Linked DNA regions of Homo sapiens: region 1 is linked to region 2. A link means that fine-mapping ties the variant in region 2 to the plasma level of a protein whose gene starts in the linked region. Region 2 holds a variant in brackets. A gene starts in the other region. All regions are shown on their reverse strands.

The links. PIP is the posterior inclusion probability: the model's chance that the variant is causal. Protein levels are from antibody-based Olink assays in UK Biobank. Linkage for the fine-mapping came from a reference panel and not from the study's own genotypes, which makes the PIPs less certain.
Region 1: it holds the start of TACSTD2, and the variant in region 2 is fine-mapped to the plasma level of the TACSTD2 protein (UK Biobank, PIP 0.98).

The regions. Positions count from the first base shown.
Region 1 is chr1:58,575,850-58,578,349 of GRCh38, reverse strand. TACSTD2 (tumor associated calcium signal transducer 2) reads left to right here and starts at 1,098. Exons shown (of 1, transcript NM_002353.3): 1 at 1,098-2,500. The coding sequence starts at 1,194. The coding sequence ends at 2,165. RefSeq lists enhancers at 940-1,634, 1,635-2,330.
Region 2 is chr8:97,780,818-97,783,836 of GRCh38, reverse strand. All of the region lies in intron 1 of LAPTM4B (lysosomal protein transmembrane 4 beta), which reads right to left. Among named protein-coding and RNA genes, the nearest start is that of LAPTM4B, 6.5 kb to the right of the region's middle. RefSeq lists an enhancer at 817-1,325. The variant AT/T (reference allele first, on the strand shown) is at 1,488.

The sequences.
Region 1 (2,500 bases), not on the chromosome of region 2:
TTTACCACAGCTTTGAAACTCTAGACTTTCTCAATGACTCAAAAAGAGATTGCAACCCCTGTATGCCATGAAACTAGCCACACAGTGGCAGACAAGCAATTTCTCACAGGCTCCATTCTTTCATTATTTACATGGTTCAGCTACTTACGTGGGATACAGGAAAAGAAAAGCAACGATTTGCTGTGTTAGAATCAAATTGTACAAAAAACTCTTTACAGTCTTGCTGGCTCTTTAAGAATTTGTTCCTGTTTGTCTCTTTATAGCCAGTGCACAAATAAATATTATGTGCGTGTGTGCCTGTGTGTGTGCGCTTGTGTGAGGTACAGAAAATTAGTGTTTAACAGAACTTTTAACCCTCTGGACACCAGGATACCTGTGTTTTACCCTTGATATGGTGAGTAACAGAACTGCTTCCCTAACTTCCCTTCAGATTCTGTGTCACTTCGTGTCCACAAACACTTTATTTAAGGTCTCATCACTCCTAGGCAGGGTGCCAAAGACCCCTCTCAGAAATATGAGGAAGTTGATAGCAGTGTGACTTCAGGTCTTTAAGCCTCATCAGTACCACCTATAAAACGGGTCTGATAGTCCCTACCTGTCAGGACTGGTGTTAGGATGAGATAATGTTTGTGAACTGTAAACTATATAAACGTGTGCTACTGTGAGAACTGGACAAAGAAGAGAGGGAGTGAGAGAAATTAAGGGAGGGCTGGGGCTGGGAAAGAACGAAAAGGGAGTCGCGTATAGAGGAGAGCGCGACAGTCGCGAGCCACACTTTGCAATGAAACTCTTTAGACTTTCTGCCGGGAGAGCGGCCCAGACGCGCCAGGTCTGTAGCAGGAGGCCGCGCCGAGGGCGGGTCCCCAGAAGCCTACAGGTGAGTATCGGTTCTCCCCTTCCCGGCTTTCGGTCCGGAGGAGGCGGGAGCAGCTTCCCTGTTCTGATCCTATCGCGGGCGGCGCAGGGCCGGCTTGGCCTTCCGTGGGACGGGGAGGGGGGCGGGATGTGTCACCCAAATACCAGTGGGGACGGTCGGTGGTGGAACCAGCCGGGCAGGTCGGGTAGAGTATAAGAGCCGGAGGGAGCGGCCGGGCGGCAGACGCCTGCAGACCATCCCAGACGCCGGAGCCCGAGCCCCGACGAGTCCCCGCGCCTCATCCGCCCGCGTCCGGTCCGCGTTCCTCCGCCCCACCATGGCTCGGGGCCCCGGCCTCGCGCCGCCACCGCTGCGGCTGCCGCTGCTGCTGCTGGTGCTGGCGGCGGTGACCGGCCACACGGCCGCGCAGGACAACTGCACGTGTCCCACCAACAAGATGACCGTGTGCAGCCCCGACGGCCCCGGCGGCCGCTGCCAGTGCCGCGCGCTGGGCTCGGGCATGGCGGTCGACTGCTCCACGCTGACCTCCAAGTGTCTGCTGCTCAAGGCGCGCATGAGCGCCCCCAAGAACGCCCGCACGCTGGTGCGGCCGAGTGAGCACGCGCTCGTGGACAACGATGGCCTCTACGACCCCGACTGCGACCCCGAGGGCCGCTTCAAGGCGCGCCAGTGCAACCAGACGTCGGTGTGCTGGTGCGTGAACTCGGTGGGCGTGCGCCGCACGGACAAGGGCGACCTGAGCCTACGCTGCGATGAGCTGGTGCGCACCCACCACATCCTCATTGACCTGCGCCACCGCCCCACCGCCGGCGCCTTCAACCACTCAGACCTGGACGCCGAGCTGAGGCGGCTCTTCCGCGAGCGCTATCGGCTGCACCCCAAGTTCGTGGCGGCCGTGCACTACGAGCAGCCCACCATCCAGATCGAGCTGCGGCAGAACACGTCTCAGAAGGCCGCCGGTGACGTGGATATCGGCGATGCCGCCTACTACTTCGAGAGGGACATCAAGGGCGAGTCTCTATTCCAGGGCCGCGGCGGCCTGGACTTGCGCGTGCGCGGAGAACCCCTGCAGGTGGAGCGCACGCTCATCTATTACCTGGACGAGATTCCCCCGAAGTTCTCCATGAAGCGCCTCACCGCCGGCCTCATCGCCGTCATCGTGGTGGTCGTGGTGGCCCTCGTCGCCGGCATGGCCGTCCTGGTGATCACCAACCGGAGAAAGTCGGGGAAGTACAAGAAGGTGGAGATCAAGGAACTGGGGGAGTTGAGAAAGGAACCGAGCTTGTAGGTACCCGGCGGGGCAGGGGATGGGGTGGGGTACCGGATTTCGGTATCGTCCCAGACCCAAGTGAGTCACGCTTCCTGATTCCTCGGCGCAAAGGAGACGTTTATCCTTTCAAATTCCTGCCTTCCCCCTCCCTTTTGCGCACACACCAGGTTTAATAGATCCTGGCCTCAGGGTCTCCTTTCTTTCTCACTTCTGTCTTGAAGGAAGCATTTCTAAAATGTATCCCCTTTCGGTCCAACAACAGGAAACCTGACTGGGGCAGTGAAGGAAGGGATGGCATAGCGTTATGTGTAAAAAACAAGTATCTGTATGACAACCCGGGATCGTTTGCAAGT
Region 2 (3,019 bases):
GCCAGATGGTTTAAGTTTTAATGTCTTTCTGAAGTTACAGAAAGAATAGGGGTTTAGATCACGGCAAAACAGGTTATGGGAGGGAGGGACGGAAAGGCCTGGCTAGGGAAGGTGGTCTTGTTATGCAAATGAGACCCCACAGGTAGAAGGCTTGAGAAAAGATACTTGGTAGCCTGTGGTATGTGGTAAACTTCTCTATTAGACCTTCAAAGGTGTCAGACTCTCAATCTCTCGGTTAATCTTTCCAAGGTCTGAACATGGGGGATGGGGTGGGGAGGTGTGCTCAGAGAAAGCCTGGCTGTTTATTTCACTAATGCAGATTTTCCCTAAAGATGCAAATCTCCACAAACAGCAGCTTTTCAGAGCTATTCTTGTTTGCAGTTTCTCTAATACTATCTTGAAATATACCAAAGAGGTATATTTTGGGTGAGATATTCTGGTTTCCTTTACTTGAGTAAACAAGGAAACTGTGAGTTTCTATGTGAACAAGTGGATTCTTTGAAAGACCAGGTCTGCACTTGTATCCCAGAACTTAAAGTATAATTAAAAAACAAAAGAAAAAGAAAGAAAGAAAATTAAAAAGAAAGACCAGGTCATAAAGCCAATGAAGCAGCTACTCTGACCTCTTTTATCCTTTATAATCTGATATATGGCTAACTACCCTGTGAACAGTGTCTGGCACAGAGGCATTTGGTATGTATTTGCTGTGTCTAAGTTCCTAAAAAATAACTGAACAAGGATATTTAAAAAAAAAAAAAAAAAAAGGCCGGGCGCGGTGGCTCACACTTGTAATCCCAACACTTTGGGAGGCCAAGGCGGGCAGATCACCTGAGGTCGGGAGTTTGAGACCAGCTTGACTAACATGGAGAAACCCCGTCTCTACTAAAAAATAAATAAATAAATAAATAAATAAATAAATAAATAAATAAAATACAAAATTAGCCAGGTATGGTGGTGCATGCCTGCAATCCCAGCTACTTTGGAGGCTGAAGCAGGAGAATCACTTGAACCCAAGAGGCGGAGGCTGCAGTGAGCCGAGACTGCACCACTGCACTCCAGCCTGGGCAACAAGAGCGAGACTCCGTCTCAGAAAAAAAAAAAGGCTGGGGACGGTGGCTCACGCCCGTAATCCCAGCACTTTGGGAGGCCGAAGCAGGTGGATCAGGAGGTCAGGAGTTCGAGACAAGCCTGACCAACATGGTGAAACCCCGTCTCTACCAAAAATAAAAAATTAGCCAGGGATGGTGGCGCATGCCTGTAGTACCAGCTACTCAGGAGACTGAGGCAGGAGAATCGCTTGAACCCGGGAGGCAGACGTTGCAGTGAGCTGAGACTGCGCCACTGCACTCCAGCCTGGACAACAGAGTGAGGCTCTGTCTCAAAAACAAAAGCCTGGAGTGGTGTGGAGTGGTGGTGTGAGCCTGTAGTCCCAGCTACTTGGGAGGCTGAAATGGCAAGGCTGCTTGAGCCAGGGAAGACAAGGCTGC[AT/T]TGAGCCACTCCAGCCTGGGCAATAGAGTGAGATCTTGTCACAAAAAAAAAAAAAAAAAAAAAAAAAAAGCTGGGCATGGTGGCTCAGGCCTGTAATCCCAGCACTTTGGGAGGCTGAGGGGAGCAGATCACCAGAGGTCGGGAGTTCGAGACCAGCCTGACCAACATGGAGAAATCCTGTTATCTACTAAAAATACAAAATTAAACAGGTGTGGTGGCGCATGCCTGTAATCCCAGCTACTAGGGAGGCTGAGGCAGGAGAATTGCTTGAACCTGGGAGTCGGAGGTTGCGGTGAGCCGAGATCGCACCATTGCACTCCAGCCTGGGCAACAAGAGCTAAACTCTGTCTCAAAAAAAAAAAAAAAAGTCCCCAAAGTCTTGTGCAAGAATGTTCAGTGCAGCTTTATTTATAATAGCCCCAAATTGGAAATAACCCAAATGTCCAATATCTGGCAAATGGATAAACAAATTGTGGTATATTAATACAATAAAAACAATACTCAGCAATAAAAAGCAACACTCCAAGAAGATGAATGAATCTAAAAGAAGTTATGCTAAGTGAAAGAAGCTAGATACAGAAGGGTACACACAGCATAATTCCATTTTACATGAATAAGCAAAACTTACCTACAGTGATTGGGGATATGGCAGGGATTAACTGGGAAACAGCACAAGGGAACTTGCTGAAAGTTTGGAAATGTTCTCAAGGAATGTGGGTTACATTACAGAGGCATTTGTCAACTCAATAAACTACATTTAACTGTGAATTTTGCCGGGCACGGTGGCTCACGCCTGTAATCCCAGCACTGTGGGAGGCCGAGGCGGGCGGATCACCTGAGGTCAGGAGTTCAAGACCAGCCTGGCCAACATAATGAAACCCTGTCTCTACTAGGAAAACAAAAATTAGCCAAGCGCAGTGGTGGGTGCCTGTAATACCAGCTACTTGGGAGGCTGAGGCAGGAATCACTTGAACCCAGGAGGCGAAGGTTGCAGTGAGCTGAGATTGCACCACTGCACTTCGGCCTGAGCAATAAGAGCAAAACTCCTCAAAAAAAAAAAAAAAAAAAAAGGCCGGGCACAGTGGCTCACGCCTGTAATCTCAGCACTTTGGGAGGCCAAGGCGGATGGATCACAAGGTCAGGAGTTCAAGACCAGCCTGAACAACATGGGGAAACCCCATCTCTACTAAAAATACAAAAATTAGCCCGGAGCTCACCTGTAATCCCAGCTACTCAGGAGGCTGAGCAGGAGAATCGCTTGAACCCAGGAGGCGGAGGTTGTGGTGAGCCGAGATCACGCCACTGCACTCCAGCCTGGGCGTCAGAGCGAGACTCGGTCTCAAAAAAAAAAAATTGTAGTACATAAATCACAACTCAATAAAAGAAAAAAAAAGAGACAAACAAAAAATGATCTCTAGAATAAATACCTGAAGTCTCCCAAAGTTAGCGTGGCCCAGAATTTTAAAAATAGTAATAATAATAATAAATACCTGAAGTCAATATACTTTACTTCAGGACTGAAGGAAAACTT